Linked DNA regions of Homo sapiens. The protein of the gene in region 3 binds, or shares a complex with, the protein of the main gene of each other region. Each region holds a gene or a part of one and is shown on either strand. Other genes may lie near its edges. The genes, in order: RYR2, IQSEC1 and CALM2.

The links.
Region 1: the proteins of CALM2 (region 3) and RYR2 are in contact, whole or in part, in a crystal structure (PDB 7KL5), measured with the Homo sapiens proteins. Residues at the interface, in NP_001734.1 of Homo sapiens: Glu12, Phe13, Ala16, Phe20, Leu33, Met37, Leu40, Gln42, Glu48, Asp51, Met52, Glu55, Met72, Met73, Lys76, Met77, Asp79, Thr80, Ala89, Val92, Phe93, Leu106, Val109, Met110, Asn112, Leu113, Glu115, Leu117, Met125, Ala129; in NP_001026.2 of Homo sapiens: Phe4246, Ala4247, Leu4248, Arg4249, Tyr4250, Asn4251, Ile4252, Leu4253, Thr4254, Leu4255, Met4256, Arg4257, Leu4259, Ser4260, Lys4262, Ser4263, Lys4266, Gln4267.
Region 2: the proteins of CALM2 (region 3) and IQSEC1 are in contact, whole or in part, in a crystal structure (PDB 7VMB), measured with the Homo sapiens proteins. Residues at the interface, in NP_001734.1 of Homo sapiens: Glu85, Ile86, Ala89, Phe90, Val92, Phe93, Lys95, Glu105, His108, Val109, Met110, Asn112, Leu113, Gly114, Glu115, Lys116, Leu117, Thr118, Glu121, Glu124, Met125, Arg127, Glu128, Phe142, Met145, Met146; in NP_055684.3 of Homo sapiens: Val121, Leu124, Glu125, Lys127, Tyr128, Gly129, Val133, Thr134, Arg135, Ala137, Ala138, Arg139, Thr140, Ile141, Gln142, Ala144, Phe145, Arg146, Tyr148, Gln149, Lys152.

Annotation. Positions count from the first base shown.
Region 1 is NC_000001.11:237,048,631-237,052,280, reverse strand, and holds part of RYR2 (ryanodine receptor 2), read right to left. Parts: intron 1-3,650. UniProt on the Homo sapiens protein: Cytosolic calcium-activated calcium channel that mediates the release of Ca(2+) from the sarcoplasmic reticulum into the cytosol and thereby plays a key role in triggering cardiac muscle contraction. Aberrant channel activation can lead to cardiac arrhythmia.
Region 2 is NC_000003.12:12,933,846-12,937,495, forward strand, and holds part of IQSEC1 (IQ motif and SEC7 domain-containing protein 1), read right to left. Parts: intron 2,853-3,650; coding exon 1,603-2,852; intron 1-1,602. UniProt on the Homo sapiens protein: Guanine nucleotide exchange factor for ARF1 and ARF6. Guanine nucleotide exchange factor activity is enhanced by lipid binding. Accelerates GTP binding by ARFs of all three classes.
Region 3 is NC_000002.12:47,169,934-47,173,129, forward strand, and holds part of CALM2 (calmodulin-2), read right to left. Parts: exon of another isoform or gene 2,527-3,196; coding exon of another isoform or gene 2,481-2,526; exon of another isoform or gene 832-2,480; coding exon 801-831; intron 1-800. UniProt on the Homo sapiens protein: Calmodulin acts as part of a calcium signal transduction pathway by mediating the control of a large number of enzymes, ion channels, aquaporins and other proteins through calcium-binding. Calcium-binding is required for the activation of calmodulin.

The DNA.
Region 1 (3,650 bases), on a different chromosome or scaffold from region 3:
GACACAATCCCCCTAGAACCATAAGCTTACTGTTCCCAGGTTGATGCATATAAGGTTTCACTGTTTGAGCATCTGAACTCTACGGGAACTATGGCTTCCACCTTCATGGTATCTCTTAGGTACCTGGTATAATGCTACAGATAAAAGAGGTATCCCGTTCACACACACTGCATTAAGGTACCCTAGTAAACTGCATATAATTACCCTACTCTGTATTTATTATGTAAAATACTATCTCATGGAATCAGTTCGATGCAATTCCACAAACATTAAACACAGGACCTATGATGTGGCACACAGCCTGCAAGGCTCTGGTAATGTAAGAAATTCACATTTGATATTATAAAGTAACTTCCTGCAGGTAGAAGCAGGGCACCAAGTTTCCCTCTCATTTTAAAATATGTCCATCTCCAGCAGAAAGGGCCCCTGTATGGCAAGATTAAGTGAGAGTTCTAGAGCCAGCCTGCCCAGGTCTGAAACTGTCGCTCCACTGCCTGTGTCTGCAAACACTGGGCTCACTTCACTTCTTTGCAGGTAGCTACCTCTGAGGGATTTTCTAGGGATTTCATGAGAAAATACACATGCAATGCTTAGAACAGACCTGCCAGACAATTACATATCAATGCACCTACAAGAAATAAAGTTGCCAACAGCAGTAGGTAGGCCACGGCGTAAAAAAGCTCTGATCTCCTGACTAGAAATGGTTACTCCTCAGGCTGATGCTGTATTTAAGATCAGAGGAACTCCTCTCAGCCTGTGGGACTATTCAAATGTGCCTTAAGAATGCCCTGTACAACCTCAAAAAGACATGTGGACACCATTGTTCCTGAATGCTGAGATGGTACAGGTTTGTTGCTGGTCCTGCCACTATCAAAATAGCATCTCTCAAAAGTAACTCACTCATGAGCCCCGAGGAGAGAAGAGGAGAGAAGACGAGAGGGGAGGGGAGGGGAGGGGAGGGAGAGAGATAAAGAGAAAGAGAGAGAGAGAGAGAGAGAAGGGGAGGAGAGGGTAGGGAACGGGAAGGGGAGGGGAAGGGGAGGGAAAGGGGAGGAAGGGGGGGGAGAGAAAGGGAAAGGGAGGGAAGGGAAAAGGAGGGAAGGGGGAAGGGAGGGGAGGGAAAGGGAAAGACAAAGGGAAAGGAACCATAAAAATAAAAACCCCAAAGCACTGGAAGAAATAACAGAGATCAACAGACAATTCACTGCTACACATGAACTAATTTAACTGAATTCTACACCACAGTCAAAATTGGTGAAAAAAAATATGGTGGAATATCTTTCATTCATTTGTGCACACATGTGTGCGTGTGTGTGAGACCGAACTTTCCTCATGTAAAGTTTCTTTGATTATGAAATAAATATAAACTCTAGCAAAAGCTAGAAGAATTTAAATCATAATTGCTTTTATTTTGAAAACCAGAAACCTGCTGTGGAAAAGAAGAGAATACAACTTCTAGTGGCTATCACCTCAGTGTGCTGTTCGGCTTCATTTTAACAATATCCCAATTGACTCAAGACTAAGGATATCATTTTTCCTGTAAGCTTTCTTTTTCTTTTCTTGATCTTCTCAAAATGTATCATTTCAGTTTATATCTTTGGTTATGCATTAAATATGAGTGAAATTCATGGGTTCCCATGTACATTATGAATCAGATTCTAAACTCAGGAGGAAAGAGAAACAATTAAAACTTCATTAGAAGCAGAATAAATGTGCAAAAACTCTTAAAATACCAAAAATGTTAAAGGAAAAAAAGTGCTTGCCATAGTAGAAAAACAAATTGGCCACATTGAATTGTTCCTTCCTTCATGGTGATGAGATGTGTGGGCCTGTGCCTCTCCCTCAGTGACCACATGCGGGTTTCCCCTGCACACTAAGAACCACGTGTCCCAGGGAGCAAATGTGTCCTCGTTCCCGCCTCAGCCCTTCCCAGACTCAGGAAGGCCCTGCCAGCCTCTGAGTTCCTATACACTTTCTCCTGTTCCACTCGCTTTCTTCTGCATCTATCTTGGCTCCACAGCTAGATTTCAGGTTTTCTTCCAGTAAATTGGCAGATACTCATCATCGGTTGGTGGGTGGTAAGTACCTGCACCCAGCCATCCAGGGGAGGTCTCCCTGGGTTCACGTGTCAGTGGCTCCTCTCTCTCTGTCCCCTACTTGGGTAACGAACATGAAAGCAATTACGTGTAGGTCCTCTGAACACTCCGTCACTAACAGGGAATGCCTTGGACTTCCATTTCATTGCAGCAACACCACTACAGAACTTTTGCAATAGAAACCAGGAAATATACCTTCCACATGGGCTTTGAGGCTGACTGTAACATTCTGGGAAACCCCAGAAACATGGGCCACTTCTTCACCAGCCAGGGAGAAGGTAACTATGGAAGCCAGAGAAGTACTTCACGGCTGGGACAATAGAGAGGATTTGCAAACAAGCTCACTAGGAGTTCAGTTACTAAATGGATCCGAACCTAAGTAGTCCCTAAGAGGGCTACTGACATGAGAGAATTCTTCTCCTAGCTCCTTCTAAATGCCTGTCTGCAAGCTTCTCTTATTGTTAACATCTCCTCTTCCCTGAAAGAAAACCACCCATCATCAAGAATCCTGGCTCAAAGCTTGTTGTCAGCTTTCAGGGCCTGTAATCCACCAGGATGAGGATTTCCAGGGACCCCAGGATCATTCAAAGCTTTTCTTTCCAGTCCCAGGGTGAGATTTTGTTATGCTCATCCTGCAGAATGGTTTGAGTCTGGTTGACCCTAAGACTACGAACATGACAATGGAAATTACCGCAAGTCCCTCTGAGAAAACAACCTCCCCATTTTACCTCTCTCAAACAAATCTCTATCTGACCCCACCAGCCCCAAGGTCACACAACCATTTGTTGGCAGGGTCCTCATCCCAATGTTCTTCCCGTGATTAATAAAGAGGAAAGTAAGGGGATGAAACTGATCCACTGGACACTCTAACAGTGCCCCTGGAAGTCACCTCACCCCCTGACAGCTGCTCATTTGAAATACAGCTTCTGACTCTAAACCAGTATTTCTTTTGGGCAGCCCTAATCACTCAGACTCAATTAATCCTTAATTTATTCTCTTACTCTCCTTTGTTCATTTGCTCTAGTGACTGTAACTTCCCTCTCTCTAATTGCCTTCTCCGGGTGTCCCCTCCCACTGGACCTGGGAGCCACTGCGGCCTCCCAAAGCAGCAATCATCACCTGGCCTCTCTCACCCTACACACCTCCGGTGTCCTCATCTCAGAATTTCACCCACCAACACTCCTACTCTTCTGCTTCCAGAAGAGATCTTACCTCTATTCTTCCACCCCCACTATCTTTGCCTACTTCCTTCATAGCAGGTTCCTTCTTTCTGCATTTGGACGCATTCAAGTGATGTTCACATTAAACTTGTGGGCAGGAGGATCCTTTCTCTTGTCCCGATCTTCTCCTTGCCACAAGATTTCTCTCAAGTCTGTCCTTGTAGTTAACAGTGCACCAAGCATCATGGGAAACCGATGCCCAACACGGTCCCAACTCACCCACAGAGCATCAGGGTCAGAGCATTCTCTGACCATTGCTTGAGTTTCCCAATCAGTTCCATACATTTTATTAATTATTAGTGATAAATGGTCGGAGAAAGGTAAAATCGGAATT
Region 2 (3,650 bases), on a different chromosome or scaffold from region 3:
TTCACGTGCTACACAGATAATTAAAAGTTAACTGAATAAGAAAGAATCTACACAGACCAAAGCTGGCTGGTTGAGGGAGGTGGTTTTTCCTGGTTTCCTGTCTCCCCACTGCTGGCCTCCACCTGTCCACTCTGCAGGGACCCCTGGTTATCCCAGCCTCCCCTCTAGGGCACATGGGCCTGGGTCGAGAGATGATCCTGGAGCTCGGCTGTGCCCAGGAGCAGTGGGGACAGACTTCAGGGACCGTGTCAGGTGGGCCAGCAGGATGCAACCCTCCCCTGTCCAGCGCATTGCTCCGGCCGTGGCCTGTGCAGCAGTGAGAGCAGCCGTACTCTGCAGCAAGCCACAGGCAGATCACAGGCTCAGGAGAGAGCATCCTGGTAGATGTGAGATGTCCAAGACTCTTTGTTCTTAGCTGAGCAAACCAGTAAGCCATTGCCCCTTACTGGCCCCAAGTGAATGCACCATTCCCCAGAGGCTCTTCCTGAGACAGGCCTCTCTGACATCCCAAGATAGTGCTTCCATGTGTCCCAGGAATGGCTCAAAAGCACCATCTCCCCCAGTCTAGAAGAAGAGAGAACAGGGGGCAGACGGAGCAGGGAGCCAGCTCAGGCACTGGCTTTGAGGTGGCCAGGTCCCACTGCGCCATTCATCACCCTAGTTTGACCTCCTGGGAAAACTGTCGTCTGCCCCTGGCTCCCCGGATGTGTGTCAGGAACCACCAGCCCAGGGGAGTTGGTGCCAGGCCAGCATCTGATGAGGCCAAATCCCAGTAGCCCAGGGAGTGGAAATAACGAGAAATCTCAGGTTGGACAGGAGCCTGCACGTTCCCCAGGCCAAGTGCTCAGCCCTCCTCCCCTTCCTCTTGCTATTTTTGGCTGTGCTAAGAATAGTCTGCTTTAAATACCCATCGCTCCTTGGATCTGCTCTCAGGATGGTCAACGGCACCTTTCCAGGACCCCCTTGGGGAGCAGCTACTCCATGAACCCAACTCATGCATCTCCCCAAGACCCCCAGACACAGCCCTGGGTCTGGCCTGCATCTGTCTGAGTTCCTTCCATCCAGGACACGGTTCTGGGTCTGGCCAGCAACTGCCCCTGAGCACTCCTACCCCCAGACATGGCCTCAGGTCTGGCCTGCATCCCCCACAAGACACAGCCCTGGGTCTCGCCTGTCTGCCCCTGCCCCCCACTGACACAACCGGTCATACCCCTGCTCAAAGGCCTTTGTGTCCCACATCACCCCTAGGCCTGACATCCAAAGTTGCGCAGGGCATGGCCCAACATACCCCACTTGCTATGGCGGACTTGGGGGGGATGGGACGGAAGGGCCCGGGACTCAAGTTGCTTCGGCACAGAAAGCTCCCATTCTGCCCCTGCTCAGCCTGTGTGTGTTGCCATCCCCACCAGCAGTCCCAGGAGGGGCTAGGCCTCAGCGCACAGGCTGGCACCGTCCTAGCCACCGACCTTGTGTGGCAGCTTCCTATGCTCATAGGCCACGGTGGACCTCAAGCTCCGTGCTTGGAAGGATGCAGCCACGCCCACCCGCCAAGGCCCAGCAAGCCACAGCTGCCCACCCTGAGGGGTCACCCATGGTACTCACTTGTTGAAGAGGTTCAGGCCGATGCGGTAGTGCCTCTTGCGGATGACATCGTTGCTAAAGGCAGGCGAGTCCCAGCTGTTGCGGGCCTCCTTGTGGTAGGTCTGCTTGCTGAGCGTCTGCTCCCGCAGGCTGTCACGGGACGATGACTCGGAGCTGCAGTTGATGGTATCGTTGGAGTTGGACGTGCTGTTGATGCTGTCATTGTCACCGTCTGAGTAGTCCGACTCAGACTTGCTCTGCCGGTTGGCTGAGCCATTGATGGCCAAGTGGCTGTCCAGGGGCCTGGGGGGCCGGGGCCGCAACTCAGGCTCCTCCCGGGGGAGGCTCTTGGGGGCGCCGCTGTGGGGACCATGCTTGGGACTGCCCTGCTGCCCGCCAAGGCTGCGCTCGTAAGCACTCTGCCTCTTGAGTGACCCCCGCTCCGAGCGGTCACTAAGGTCCACAGAGCTGTCGCTGGGTGGCTCGATGGTGAGCAGCGGCAGATGCTCCACCCGCAGCCGCTGCTCCTGCCGCTCCAGCGACGGCGTGCTCCGGCAGCTCGTGTCCGTGTCAGCCTTGTCCTCTTTGTGGGCCAGGGCCCAGTAGTCTGGGGCTGCGCCCCCAGCCCGTAGCCGCAGGTCCGACTCGGTGCTGGACGGCCGGTCCCCTGCCTGCGAGAGGGGCAGAGGGGGCGACAGCTCCTCCTCATCGATGTACAGGGTGACATCACTGTACGAGGCCGTCATCTCGTCCAGTTTGCGGTGGTCCATGCCGTGCAGGGCTGTCTGGGGTTCGGTGTCCCGGGCCCGCGCCGCATCCAGGGCCGGTGCCTCCTCAGTGTGCAGGCTGCGGCAGTTGAGGGCATCGTCGATGGACTCGGCCAGTGATTTCACTTGCCTAGAGAAGGCGTCCTCCAGCTCGGTGATGGCGTCCGCAAAGTCACTGGAGGGGGCCGGAGACTTGAGGGTGGTGGGCTCGCTGAGGTCACCACACTCAGGGGACACCAGGGCTCCCAGCTGGGAGCCGTCGTTAGTCACTGAGACCTGCTTCCCCTCGAAGTAGGAGCTGTGCACTTTCTCAGGCCCCTCAAAGGAGAACTGCATCCTCATGTTGGACAGCACAATCCGGCGTGACATGCGGTTCTCTGACATGGAGCTGCGCAAGCGCTCGAAGTTCTTGTTCATCTGGTACTGGCGAAACGCCGTCTGGATGGTGCGGGCCGCATGGCGGGTTACCAGGCGCCCCCCATACTTTCGTTCTAGCATCTCCACCTGCGGGTGGGAGAGGAGAATGAGAACAGCACTGCATGTAGGCACAGTGCGACATTTACCAAACTCCTTCCCACTTCCTAGCCACGTGGCTGTGCGACCTGGGAAGGTCCCAAAGTTGGTCAAAGCAACTGCTGAGGGATGCTGGTGGGCTTATGCAAAATATGAGTCCCAAGGTCAAACTGGACAGAGAAGCACCAAGTTAAAATGAGTGCAACCATGTTTTTCCTCTCTCAGACCTCTTTTTTTTTTTTTTGAGACAGAATCTCGCTCTGTCACCTAGGCTGGAGTGCAATGGCACAATCTCGGTTCACTGCAACCTCCGCCTCCTGGGTTCAGACGATCCTCCTGCCTCAACCTCCCGAGTAGCTGGGATTACAGACACCCACCACCACGCCCAGCTAATTTTTGTATTTTTAGTAGAGATGGGGTTTCACCATGTTGGCCAGGCTGGTCTTGAACTCCTGACCTCAGGTGATCCACCCGCCTCGCCCTCCCAAAGTGCTGGGATTACAGGCGTGAGCCACCATGCAGGGCCTCAGAAACTTTAAAAGGCAGTGAGATACACTATGTTGAGTGTCCCCAGTGTCTTGGGTCACAGAAGCCCCTGGCCCTGGTGCATCTTGAGGTATGCCATCTAACGAAACCCATTTGGAGACCCTGGAAGAAGTATGCACAGTTCAAGAGATAGGCTAAAGATCCCAGCAAGGCCCACAGGCTTCTGGACTCATTTCCTTTCCACAGCATCAACCAGGCAGCTCTTGTGGCCAGATGGGTCACTGAGCTTCAGGGAGACCTGTG
Region 3 (3,196 bases):
ATAGTTTGCAAAGCATTTCAACACTACAATAAAAAAAAAAAACAACTCCGGCAAGGGGGGAAAAAAAAGTTTCCCCAACATTGACATTAACCAGCCATCTCAATGTACAAGGATAAATCAAAAGTATTAATGTTCTATGGCATGGCATAAAGAGAACATGACATCAGGTTTTATGTAATAATTTTGCATACTTCCATAGCAAACTAAAAGGGACAAGATTTAAGCGGCTTCATTTCAACAGCTGTCACTGTTTTTTAAGAGAAAAATCCACATTGCTACAGTGACATTTATAGAATAGAATGCCAACTTCTTAAATTTTTTCACTTGAGAAATGGTTATTCCCTGACTGATTATATATGCAATTCTTAGGTTAAAATGTTAGCTAATTTTAACTAGGGTAAATTCAATTGTTCCTTTTTTGATTCTCCATTTCAAGTTGCCTTAGTTACTTCTTGGCCTCCTTTTCTAGCGTGTTAGCTAGCCCAGAATTCCTGTTTTATACTAAGGTAGTCTTCAGAAAACAAAACAAAGACCACCACTACACCACAAGGCTCCAAAGTATATCCACGCAGACTAAAATACATGTCTTTAACTACAATTAGCCCTGCACATCTTCCATCGGCAAGTTTACAATCCCACTTGCCAAAGCAGGTTGAATTACTGTATTATATTATACCCATATGTTAGTATCCATGACATATACCAAAGTCAATTATTTCATACAAGTCTCTTATTCTGACGTTGGCTATTCAATTTATAATAAGAATCTAATGGGTACAATCTAGCTGAGTATTTCTCACCTGCAATCTGCTCTTCAGTCAGTTGGTCAGCCTACAAAGAGATCAAAGAGGAAGGTTAGTGACTTGAGAGTATGTAGATTAGCAGTTACAGAAACAAGTTTAAAACCTTTCAAGGGTTACCATGTACTGTTTCATTTAGTTCCAGCAACAAACACATCTGGATAGAAAATGCACACATCTAGTTTCTCTTATCTTCAAAGCTAAGCTGTCTTAACTCCAAGTTTAAGATATACAAATACTTCAGAATATTTTTGAAAATATACTTTAGAATCCAATAGAAACATTGCTTCCTTTTTCAACGTTAGAATAGCTAAACTTAAGCTCACTTCTATTCCAGATATAAATCACCAGAAATTCCCACTGAATCAAAATGCTTCAGGCTCACAAAATGAAAATTACTCCCACAAATGGTTAAACACATTGTTTTGAAATTAAAGTGATTAAAAAAAAAAAAAGGCACAAACTTTTATTCCTTCTCACCCAGCAGGCAAAATGCAAAGAATCCAGAGCTCTGAACTACAGTACTATAATATTTACCAAATGTTTGAAAGTTCAGCCATCCATTTTCTCTTGGTTTTTAAAATCCCAAAGTAAGCCCAAGGCTTGTGATGTTTTTTTAATAGCACTTGGTTTTCTTCAGAAAATATTTTCTGCCATTTGCTAAAACCCATTATAAATTTTATCCTTATTCAATCTTAATAATAACCTTACAGTGGTATTATCCCCTATCTTACAGATAAGGAATGAGGCTAGGGTTAAGTGGGATTGGGGCACAGAAAATTAGTAGAACAAAGATAAAGCACTAAGGTGTCAGACATACCCAGTAACTTTTAGCTTTTAATTCAGAGCACCGTAATATATAAAGATGATTGCAAAATATCCAGACTCCTTGTTGTATTCTTTGAACATGCACTTTCTTTCACTGCTTATTAGTATATACATCCATGAAGCAACTGCTTATGGGGTATTGAGAAGCACAGACAAGAAATAGCCTCCTATCTAAAATCCCTACCAACATGGGAGTCAAGTATACAATGATTAATCCATTCATTTATTTATAGGTAAAAGAAAAATAAACATTGCCTGGCTTCATTCTTTTTAAATGAACACACCCCTGGAAAAAGTAACACCTTAATGTGGAACACATTTTCTCTAGGGCACATGAGAAAATTCAAGAAGGAATCCAGAAAGCAGTTTATTTTCCCTGCTCAACAATTTTTGTTTGACCATGATGTAAATCAAATTCATTAAAAAAAAAAAAAAAAAAAAAAGCTGGTAACGTAAAATTGAAGAGCCAATAATTAAGTTCAAATACAGAGTTTGTAAAATAAAAAATGTATCCACTTTTATCCCTAAAGTCCAAATCCTCCGCCAACAAATATTTGGTGTGAAGTCAGTCACAGATTGTTTACCCAAGGAATAAGGTTTAAAATCCAGTAAATCTGAGTTATTTACTTTGTATTAATAGAAGCTACATTACTTCAGTTTATTGCATTTTGCAGGACTTCCACCATTTCTGAAAGGAAGGGCAACCTGGCATGCGTGGCGTGGGGGGAAAGCATCAAGTTCTGAGTCACAGGCCAGTATCCCAGCCCTGCCATTTAATAGCTGTGTGACCTTGGACGTGGTACTCCTCCTCTCAGTCAACTTCATTTGTAGCACAAGAATAACAATACTTACCTTGCAGGGTTGTTGTGCAAAGTGAGATGCTATGTACAAAGCTAACCTAAAGAGTTAAATGATAACCATTATTTCATATAAATTAACAAAGAACCTACAATGTTAAATATCAACCTGACTAGCTCAATTTCCACACCGAATGTAGACATGCATGGCATTTATTAAGCCCTTTATGGTAAGCTTACTCTATTCAATGTTAACTTTGTTTAAGCTGAGAAAATTTATGCAAACTAAATCCACAAGGTGCAACCCAGCGACAGATGCAGCGGACATCACTTTAAGGCTAAAAAAAAGTTGAGCTAAATGTGTGGCAGACACTGCAGCCTGTGTGAAAGTTGAAGGATCCCGTACTCTGTACAGGAAGGGAGACAGGTTCGTTCTCTCTACATGGGTTGGGGGGGGGGGGGGGGTGGGAAATGGGACTTTGGGAAGGCTACTATATATGAAACATGAGAAGCCTTAGGAAGAAACGAGGATGTTAGCAATTTAGGAACCACTGTCCAATTTTGCTTGGAAAGTCAAAATTTAGGGACCTCATACCATCTTGTCTAACTCCCTACCTCCAAGCAAATGCAATCTTGGAAGAGATCACAAAAATGAGCTTCAAGGAATGAATTAAGCACCCAAGAGACCAAATTACTCACATAACCTGAAAGCTCTCAATTTTGCTTGGAAGGTTGAGAAGCTTTTTGTATTACTTATCCAGAGTTCAGGTT